3 linked regions of the Homo sapiens genome follow. The protein of the gene in region 2 purifies or fractionates together with the protein of the main gene of each other region. This does not show direct contact. Each region holds a gene or a part of one and is shown on either strand. Other genes may lie near its edges. The genes, in order: EIF1AX, NCR3LG1 and MIGA1.

Region 1 (3,657 bases), on a different chromosome or scaffold from region 2:
AAATATGGTGAGGAGTTCTGTAAGCTTTGGACTTCCACATAATGCTAACTAAAGGAATAATTTTGTTATAGTATCTATTAAAATTCCTTCCTCGAGAGACTGTCAGTGCGCATATGGGTTAAACACGAAGTGCAAGTCAGCCGGGCATGGTGGCACATGCCTGTAGTCTCAGCTACTTGGGAGGCCAAGACGGGAGGATTGCTTGAGTCCAAGAGTTCAAGGATGCAGTGACCTATGATCATGCCACTATACTCGAGCCTGAGTGACAAAGTGAGACCTTGTCTCAAAAAAAATTAAAAAAAAAAAAAAAAAAAAACCATGAAGCAAGGGCAAGTAATTAGGTACAGTTACTGATTTTGTTTGTTTGTTTTGAAATGGAGTCTCACTCTTTTGCCCAGGCTGGAGTGCAGTGGTGCAGTCTTGGCTCACTGCAACCTCTGCCTCCCAGGTTCAAGCGATTCTCAGCCTCCAAAGCAGCTGAGATTACAGGCATGCACCACCATGCCCGGCTAATTTTGTAGTTTTAGTAGAGACGGGGTTTCACCATGTTGGTCAGGCTAGTCTCAAACTCCTGACCTCAGATGATCCACCCACCTCTGCCTACCAAAGTGCTCGGATTTCAGGCGTGAACCACCATGCCCGGCCTCATTACTGATTTTTATTAAAAAGTTATATTTCCATTTTATCGTTGTATAATAGTATCCCATAGGATTTTTTAAAAGCAACATTTCTTGGTTTTCACCCTTCCAAATACAAAAGTAATGAATTCTTAACGCAGAAAACCTAAAAATAAGTCCCTTATAACCTCATCAAAGGGGAAATGTACTTGACATACTGTTCTGTAGGCCTGCATTTTCACTTGGCAGTTATTATTTTTGGCTCTGTTGTATCTTAAGAAAAAACATAATTTTGTTATATTTTACTTAAGCATGAAAGTCCTGCTGAAATTACTTAGCATTTCTGATCTAAGAAATGTTAATGTATATAGGAATAGGACTAGCGCTTCCTGGTTCATTTTCATTGCTTAGGGGTAATCATGATTTGACCAGATCTTTCTGATTGATGAGTCTATCTGATGATTAGTGAACCAGCTATTCTTAAGGAAATACGTTGTTACCATATTTCCTTGTATGTTGAGAAGTATACCTGAAAGTTATAATAGCTTCAGAATTAGTGTAATTAGGGCCTTCCTTACTAAAAATACCTTTGCAAACAAAAGAAAATGGTAACACAGATACTCCCATCTTGACTTAGCAGTGACACTGCAGGAATTTTTTTTCATAAAATATTCTTTATAGTTATTGTCTTATATAAAAGGAATGCTCTTATGATGAAACTTTGAGTAAATTACAGTGCTGACTTATGAGTATTTCTTACTGTGTCCTTAGCTAAAATCAATGAAACTGATACATTTGGTCCTGGAGATGATGATGAAATTCAGTTTGATGACATTGGAGATGATGATGAAGATATTGATGACGTAAGTAGATGTACCTTGTGTTTTCCAATTTTTGTTATTATCCATGGAGAAACCAACTTTCCCCTAACATCCATTAATTTTAAGAACATGGGACACTTAAATAAGGTTGTATTTTGAGAATTGTCTGAATTAAATAATATTATTTAGAAGACACCTGGTCAAACTGTTTATATTTTGAGAATTCTTTTTTTTTTTTTTTTTTTTTTTTTTTTTGTGATGGAGTTTTGTTCTGTCACCCAGGCTGGAGTGCAGTGGTACAATCTCAGCTCACTGCAATCTCTGCCTCCTGGGTTCAAGCGATTCTCCTGCCTCAGCCTCCTGAATAGCTGGGACTACAGGCGCGTGCCACCACGCCTGGCTAATTTTTTGTATTTTTAGTAGAGACGAGGTTTCACCACGTTGGCCAGGCTGGTCTCGAACTCCTGACCTCCGGTGATCTGCCCTCCTCGGCCTCCCAAAGTGCTGGGGTTGCAGGCGTGAGCCACCATGCCCGGCCCTATTTTGAGAATTCTTATAACCCTCTTCAATTTCTCTTCCTGAAAAGGTCAGTGTTTGCATTGGCAATATTAACGCCAGCCACTCTAATCATAACTTGTTTAATTAAGAGTCTCTAAAGAGATAGCCATTAAGAAATTTAGTGGACAGTTGAAAAATAGATCTTATCAAAGGAACATGCCTTTTTAATTGAAATATTAGTGTGTTGAAAGAATCTTGTTTGAACCAGCTTGATATGAAGCATTGGAATTACAACATACACTGAAAGCCTTGTCAAAATGGAAGCCTATTGCCAATTATGGTATTTTTAGCTGTTGGGTGTGTACTGTTGGCAAACTCTTGGTTTGCAGTTGGTATGTTTATTTTGAGGAAAATGGATTGTCTTTCCTAATAATAAAGTAGTAATGCCCATAAGTGTAAATGCTTTACTGCACTTCTGCTGTTACTGTAATTGAATGAAATTCAAACTTAATCTTTTGGCAGTATAAATTTATTTAGTGATTAGGGTGTTACTCTTAAATCTGTTTTGGGCTCTTCTTTTCAAACCTCTTTTAACTAAAATGTAGTTCAGAAACCACCTGTGTATTTCAACCCAAAAACAATAATAAGTCAGATGTGGTGGTATGCACCCATAGTCCCAGCTACTCAGGAGACTGATAGGGGAGGATCACCTGAGCCCAGGAGTTCAAGACCAGCCTGGGTAACATAGCCAGACTTTGTCTCTACATAAATAACATAATAACGTTAAATTTGATGCAAAGATGGAATTTCGGAATACCTAGAGCAGTTGTTCCTGACCAAGAATACTCACACTGTGAGTTAAATTACTAATATTATAGACATTTTAACATGTACACAAAAATAGGAAGTGAGAAATAAACATGTTGTTCTGTTATTTTCTTAATTTTGGAGACCCTGAGCCAAGAGGAGTCTTACGACTAAACTGTTACTAATATTTTGACAATAGAATTAACAATTCTATTCTTTGGTAAATAAGAGCTTGCAGCTGACATGTGGATTAAGCGCCAACCCAAACATTTTGACATCTGAGCAGGGGTAGAAGGCCTCTTTAAAAAAAAAAAAAAATTAAGGAACCTAACCAGAGAACATGCATGGATATGAAGCCGCATGCACCAAGATAATGGGTTGAGAATCTAGGCGTGGTCAAGATTTTCTCAGTAAAAATTTCTGGATCTGGGCCAACGCCTCCTCAGAACTGGACCCAGCTGGCTGGCTGGAAAAGGGATGGTAAAGAGTGATTATTAAAGGAGTTCTCTTGAACATTTTGTAAAAGTTGGCTCTGTCACCTGAGAACCCTACTCTTTGAGACATTTCTCCAGGTGGTTTATAGATGTTTTAACTATAACCAGATTGACTCAGGAGAATTAGGTCAGTATCACACTGAACGGGATCAATCATATCATGCTTCCTGTGTCTGCTCCCATCCATGAGATACAAAAATCTCAAATTACAAGCATTAAAGGAAGGAGACAGTAAATTTTATTAAGAATATTTTGCATAACATGTAACATTACAAAGGAGATCATCACGATTTACTTATAGCAGGCCAGAATTATAGGAATTTCTTCTTCAAACTGGATTTGTTTCTCACATAGCCTAAGGAGGTGAAAGTCTCCCTTATATATGGAGTAGACTGTTGGAATATAAGAATTCTTTTTCCT
Region 2 (3,657 bases):
CCTGGGCAACATAGTGAGACCTCACCTCTGTAAAAAATAAAATAAAATAATGGAAGAAATAAAACTGTATTTTTAACAGACAGCCTGATTTATGTAGAAAAATCTCAAGACTTGGCCAAAAACAAAAACAAAAACAAAAACAAAAAAATCCCTAGAATGAATAAGTGATTAAAGCAAGTTGCAGGATACAAAGTTAATAAGCAAAAATCAATTATTTGACAGGAATGAACAATTGAGCAACTGGAATTTGAAATTAAAAATATAATACCATTGGCCAGGTGTGGTGGCTCACATCTGTAATCCCAGCACTTTGGGAGGCCGAAGCTGGTGGATCATTTGAGGTCAGGTGTTTGAGACCAGCCTGGCCAACTTGGTGACCCGTCTCTACTAAAAATACAAAAATTAGCCAGGCGTGGTGGCGCATGCCCGTAATCCCAGCTACTCGGGAGGCTGAGGTAGGAGAATTGCTTGAACCCAGGAGGCAGAGGTTGCAATGAGCTGAGATTGTACCACTGCACTCCAGCCTGGGCAACACAGCGAGACTCTGTCTCAAAAAAAAAAAAAAAATGTCAATTTTTCCCAACTTGATCTCTAGATTCAATGCAATCCCAGTCAAAATCCCGGAAAGCCATTTTGCAGATATCAACAGATTCTCAAATTTGTATGGAAAGAAAAAACCCAGATAGCTAACACTATACTGAAGAAAGGCAACAAAAATGAGGGACTAACACTACCTGACTTCCAGACTTACTACTAAAATACAATAATCAAGATAGTGTGGTACTGGGGAAAGAAGAGGGAGATCAATGAAACTGAATAGGGCAGGGTGTGGTGGCTCACACCTATAATCCCAACACTTTGGGAGGCTGAGACGGGGGAGATCACTCGAGCTCAGAAGTTCCAGACCAGCCTGGGCTACACGGCGAAACTCTATCTCTACAAAAATACAAAAATTGGCTGGGAGCGGTGGCGCGAGCCTGTAGCACAAGCTACTCGGAAAGCTGAGATGGTAGGATTGCCAGGGCCCAGGAGGCAGAGGCTGCAGTGAGCCAAGATTGTGTCACTGTACTCCAGCCTGTATTAAAAGAAAAAAAGAAAAAGAAAAGAAACTGAATAGAAAGCCCAGAAATGGACCCACACAAATATATTCAACTGATCTTTGACAAAGAAGCAAAGGCAATTCAATGGAGAAAGGACAGTCTTTTCAACAAATGATGCTGGAACAATTAGGTGTTCATATGCAAAAAAAAAAAAAATACATATAGAATATAGACACAAACCTTACACTTTTCACAAAAATTAAAGTAAACTGCATCATAGACCTAAATGTCAATGGTAAAACTATAAACCTTCTAGATGATAACACAGGAGAAAATCTAGGTAGCCTTGGGTTTGGTGATGAGCTTTAGGACACAATGTTAAGAGCATGATCCATGAAAGAAAAATGTAGTAAGTTCGACTTTTTAAAATTAAGAACTTCTGCTCTACAAAAGACATTGTTAAGAGAATGAAAAGACAAGCCACAGACTGTGAGAAAATATCTGTGAGACATCTATCTGATAAAGGCTTGTATCCAGAATGTACAAAGGACTCTTAAAACACAACAATTTAAAAAATGAGCCCAGTTAAAAAATAGGCAAACAATCTGAACAAACATCTCATCAAAGAAGACATACAATTCCCAGTACTTTGGGAGGCCGAGACACGCAGATCATTTGAGCCCAGGAGTTCAAGACCAGCCTGGGCAACACAGCAAAACCCTATCTCTACAAAAAATACAAAAATTAGCCAGGCATGGTGATGTGCACCTGTAGTCCTAGCTACTTGGGAGGCTGAAGCCTGGGAGAATCACCTGAGCCTGGGAAGTGAGCTGTAATCACACCACTGCACTCCAGCCTGGACAACCAATGAACACACAAAAAAAGAAGACATACGAATGGCAAGTAAGAATATGAAAAGATGTCCAACATTATATCATTAGGGAACTGCTAATTAAAACAACAAATGAGATACCACTATATACTTATTAAAATGGCTAAAATCTGGGCTGGGTATGGTGGTTCATGCCTGTAATCCCAGTACTTTGGGAAGCTGAGGTGGGCAGATCATCTGAGGTCAGGAGTTCAAGACCAGCCTGGCCAACATGGTGAGACCCCATCTCTACTAAAAATACAAAAATTAGCCAGGCGTGGTGGCGGGCACCTGTAATCCTAGTTACCTGGGAGGCTAAGGCAGGAGAATCGCTTAAACCTGGGAGGTGGAGGTTGCAGTAAGCCAAGGTCACACCACTGCACTCCGGCCTGGGCAACAGAGCAAGACTGTCTCAAAAAAAAAATCTCAAAAAAAAAAAAAAAAGGAATTGCCAAAAAGCACTGTACTCTAGTAGATAAAGTTGTTTCTTATCGGAGTACAGGTTAATAATTAATTCAATAAACAGAGGATGGTGGGTACAGGTTTCTCACTGTTGGAGTGGGAGTTTACAGATGAGCAAGAGAAGGAAACTAGAATGATCTATGTGGTGATGGACTAAAGTTGGAGACATCAGTAAGAACAAATGTTTAATGTAATATAGGTACAGATGGTTACACATAGAAATATTTGTAGATATGTGTATATGCAGAGGTTAGTATGCATACATGTATTTCTTTGCTCTGTTGGCTGAGAGGGTCTAGAATCAATGATACCTCAGCAGCAAAAAGTACACTTACTGTCCAGGTCTTGGTTTCTAAGATCACTTTCCAATAAAAGGAACCAAGGTTTCTTGGAGTATTGGTTGGTTCTAGGACTAGAACCAGGAAATATACAAGAGAGGAAATATACAAGATGAGTCTGGAGCATCTTATAGTGCCAAAATGTAAAAAGTGCTTAAAATCAAACAAAATTCTTGATATGAATTTGCCAAAAATTAAATAAAACAAAAAATAAAATAATAAAACAAAACAAAATCTTACAATGATTGGGGTATGTCAATGTGACACAAGAGCCAAGTGAATGAGCTCCCCGTGGCCAAAGCTGGAAAAATTTGAGAAAAAATAAAGTAGTATTGCATTATAACACAAAGTATAAAATAAATATCCTTGAGTCCTTATTGATATCAATGATTGAATAAAGTCATAAATGGGAGAAAAGAGATAAATCTCCCATGCAGAAGAATTCTTAAAAAAATTATGTAGATACTCCACCTCCAAGGAGGAAGAACATAAGTAACCCCCAACCTTAAGTGTGGGCTGCACAGAGTGACTTCCTTTCAAAGAGTACAGTATGAAAATAGGAGGAAGAGTAACTTTTCAGTAGAGAAACCAGACAAACACTACTTCAACTAGATGGTCAAGGTCAACATCAACAGTCATAAGTCATGTGATTTGATGTGATGAAAATGGCAGTTTACCTCTGCGATGTTCCTCCAAAAACCCATAACCCCAAGTCCAATTATGAGGAAAACAGCAGACAAATCCTAACTTAGTGACATCCTGCAATATACCTGACCAATACCCTCACCAAACTGTCAAGGACATCAAAAATAAGGTCTAAGAAATTGTCACAGCAAAAAGGAGCCTAAGAACATATAACAATTAAATGCAATGTGGTATTCTGACGGGATCCTGGAGCAGGAAAAGGACATTAGGTAAAAACTAAGGAAATATGAATAAATTACAC
Region 3 (3,353 bases), on a different chromosome or scaffold from region 2:
TTAAATGCTTTCAGAGTTGTATTAATTTTGTTTCTAAATAATATACCACTTATTTGGAGTGACTAACTCAGTATGTAAGTAGATGAGATTTGTTGATTTTGCCCCTAAAACGGGCTTTAGTCATTTTAGGAGTGAGTTGCACAAAAGGACCTAAAATGCATTGTTTTTTGCCTTCTTTTAAGAGATGGGGTCTCGCTCTATTGCCCAGGCTGGAGTGCAGTGTGCTATCATACATAGCTCACTGCAGTCTCCAACTCCTCATACCAGAGGCATGTGTCACCATGTCTTACTCCTAAAATGCATTTTTAAAAAGCGAATTTTTAGATTAAAGTGCCTAGTTTCTGATTAATAAATAGAAGATGAAAAAAGTGGGCGGGAAAAGCATAATCTTTTAAGATTTGTAATTTTCTGTATGTGCCACATTTATGTAAATTAACTATAAAATATGGAATTCAGGATCATGCTGTTTTGCATGTACTTTATAGGTTATATAGCATGAAACATACAAATTATCACTGTTCTTTAGTATATAGCTCCTTGCCTTTTCTTACATAGATGCTTAATTTAACAATTACCTATTTATAGTTCTTATTATTGACGGGAATATGATTAGAAGTACCAAAACTAAAAATTCCATTATGTACTGTTTACTTTTTATTTAATATTACATGTTTTTACCTTGTTGCGGTATCTTTGGCCTTCACACACACATGTGTGCGTGCACGTGCATTTCATTACCATGTAGACAAGACAGTTATTGCTTATAGTAATTTACCCATTTGAGGGCTAAGTGTTTTAAGCTGTGGTTTTATAAGCAAAGCTGTAAGTAAATGTAATTTATTTTAGAAAGATATTATTTGAAATCAATTTTGAAGAATTGCACTATTTGATAATGCTGCTACTACATGAGATAACTCTGGGGAATTAATTTTATGAGATAAGATGAATGGCTTTCTAGAAGGTGTTGCTTTTTGTTTTTTCTTTTTCTTTTTTACATTTCATCTTAGAAAAAGTTGCTTATATTCAGCAGGTTGGTTTGTCAAATTCAGTGTTTGAGTTTGTTTCTGGTCAGTTCAGTAGCTGCTACTTTAGCAAGATGTGGCCTTTCACAAAAGAGGTAAGAGTGACCAAATAGAATTTTAGGACAATAAGTATAGGAAATATCTCTTTATCGTAAGATAAGAAACTTGAACTTTTTAAAGGAAATGTCCTCTTGAAAAGAACATTTCTGACTGCATGCAGAAGGGTACTTAAGACATATATAACAGGCCAGGAGCAGTGGCTCACGCCTGTAATCCCAGCACTTTGGGAGGCCCAAGTGGGCAGATAACCTGAGGTCAGGAGTTTGAGACCAGCCTGACCAACATGGTGAAACCCCATCTCTACTAAAAATACAAAAATTAGCCAGGCATGGTGGCGCATGCCTGTAATCCCAGCTACTCGAGAGGCTGAGGCAGGAGAATCGCTTGAACCCGGGAGGCGGAGGTTGCAGTTAGCCGAGATCGTGCCATTGCACTCCAGCCTGGGCAACAAGAGTAAAACTCTGTCTCAAAAAAAAAAAAAAAAAAAAAAAAAAAGACATATGTAACGGTTTCCATTTGCCTTAAAATTGGGTTAAATAGCAAAAGCAATGTCTTTAAAAATGATTAGTTTAGAGCCTTTTAGGGTAAACCCTGTTTAAACACTTAATCATGGAATTGCCCTTGCCACCATGAGCTCTACCATCCACTTCCATATGTAAATTATAAGAGGGACTTCAATTAAGTCACTCCTGAGAAAATATCCTTTTTTCTAGAAGAAAGAAGATAAATTTTGAGGCAATTTACATTTGGTATTTCTTTTAATTTCATTTTTTGTATTTTAATTTCCCTACATTTTTGTTCAACTAAGAGTGCTTATTTCTTCTTGAAGGTTAACATTATGTTTATTAAGTATCAAAATGGAATTATCTTTTAAAAAAGAAGACAAGTTTTCCATACTGTCACAGTAAGCTCCAAAGAACTTTGTCTTTCTCATAAAGTAATATTCTTTATTTGCATCCATTTACTATGATTCCGTTAATTTGTTGAATTAAATGCCTTTATAAAAATATTTACAAATGTTTTCTTGCCTTAAAATGTAACATTTTCTACTTAAATTTAATTTCCAAGAGAGTGATTATTTGCATTACAAAGGAATTCTTAATAATTCCTGTAAGCCTAGGAAATAGGAATGCCAAAGTAACATTTAATGTACTTCTCTATAACTTTTCATAATCAGAAATTTTAAATTATGTTTATATAACCCATTTACTTTTATTTTAATGTGAATATATATTCAGAAATTATTTGATGTAAATTTCAAAATGATTATAGGAATTAAGCTGAATTCTAATTTTTTTGCTTAGATTTAGAAATATGTATGTGAAATTTAAGAATTTATATAATCTGTGATTAGTGGAAATAAGAACATCCCTACTTTGTTCCTAATGAGTATATTATGTTATTGTTTTGTTTAGTTTGTGAACAACCATGTATTAGCTTTACTTAGCTGATGTCAGTAAATGTTTCTGTCTCCTAAATGTAAGGACTGTACTCATTAATTTGTGTAAAAGTAAAACACTACAGTAGCAGAAAAAATTGCACTGGCTCTTTAGCCAAAATAAGCACTGTAACATGGATGTATTACTATTACTGCCAAATAAAAAAGTGATGGTACGTCTTGCTGATGTATTGAATATTTTAAACAATGTTAATATATAATTATGAAGTCACACTTGTCTCATCAGATCCTGTATGAGAATATTCAGTCTCCATAAGACCCATATATATGGCATAGAGAACAGGACAACTGCAGAAGCATTATAATCAAATATAAAACTTTATCATTAAAATAAAAAATAAAAGGCCGGGTGCGGTGGCTCATGCCTGTAATCCCAGCACTTTAGGAGGCCGAGGCGGGTGGATCATCTGAGGTCAGGAGTTCGAGACCAGCCTGGCCAACATGGTGAAACCCCGTCTCTACTAAAAATACAAAAATTATCTGGGCATGGTGGTGGGCACCTGTAATCCCAGCTACTTGGGAGGCTGAGGCAGGAGAATCGCTTGAACCTGGGAGGCAGAGGTCGCAGTGAGCCAAGAGTGCACCATTGCACTCCAGCCTGGGCAACAAGAGCGAAACTCTGTCTCAAAAAAATAAAAAATGAAAACAAAGATTAAAAATTTATTGTTTCTCCATGTACTGATATGGGGAAAAAGACAGTTTTGTGATGAATAAAGTGAAAATACTTGTATTTTAATTTAAGTGTTTGGATGATAATGCCATCAAGCATAATATAAACTTATATTGATATATTGATGTATATGCATCATTAC

What was found.
Region 1: the proteins of NCR3LG1 (region 2) and EIF1AX purify together in Homo sapiens (affinity purification with mass spectrometry; 2 studies listed by BioGRID and IntAct, with this or other methods). This does not show direct contact.
Region 3: the proteins of NCR3LG1 (region 2) and MIGA1 purify together in Homo sapiens (affinity purification with mass spectrometry; 2 studies listed by BioGRID and IntAct, with this or other methods). This does not show direct contact.

Annotation. Positions count from the first base shown.
Region 1 is NC_000023.11:20,128,339-20,131,995, reverse strand, and holds part of EIF1AX (eukaryotic translation initiation factor 1A, X-chromosomal), read left to right. Parts: intron 1-1,388; coding exon 1,389-1,480; intron 1,481-3,657. UniProt on the Homo sapiens protein: Component of the 43S pre-initiation complex (43S PIC), which binds to the mRNA cap-proximal region, scans mRNA 5'-untranslated region, and locates the initiation codon. This protein enhances formation of the cap-proximal complex.
Region 2 is NC_000011.10:17,358,200-17,361,856, reverse strand, and holds part of NCR3LG1 (natural cytotoxicity triggering receptor 3 ligand 1 precursor), read right to left. Parts: intron 1-3,657. UniProt on the Homo sapiens protein: Triggers NCR3-dependent natural killer cell activation.
Region 3 is NC_000001.11:77,876,845-77,880,197, forward strand, and holds the end of MIGA1 (mitoguardin 1), read left to right. Parts: 3' UTR 1-2,696; downstream 2,697-3,353. UniProt on the Homo sapiens protein: Regulator of mitochondrial fusion: acts by forming homo- and heterodimers at the mitochondrial outer membrane and facilitating the formation of PLD6/MitoPLD dimers. May act by regulating phospholipid metabolism via PLD6/MitoPLD.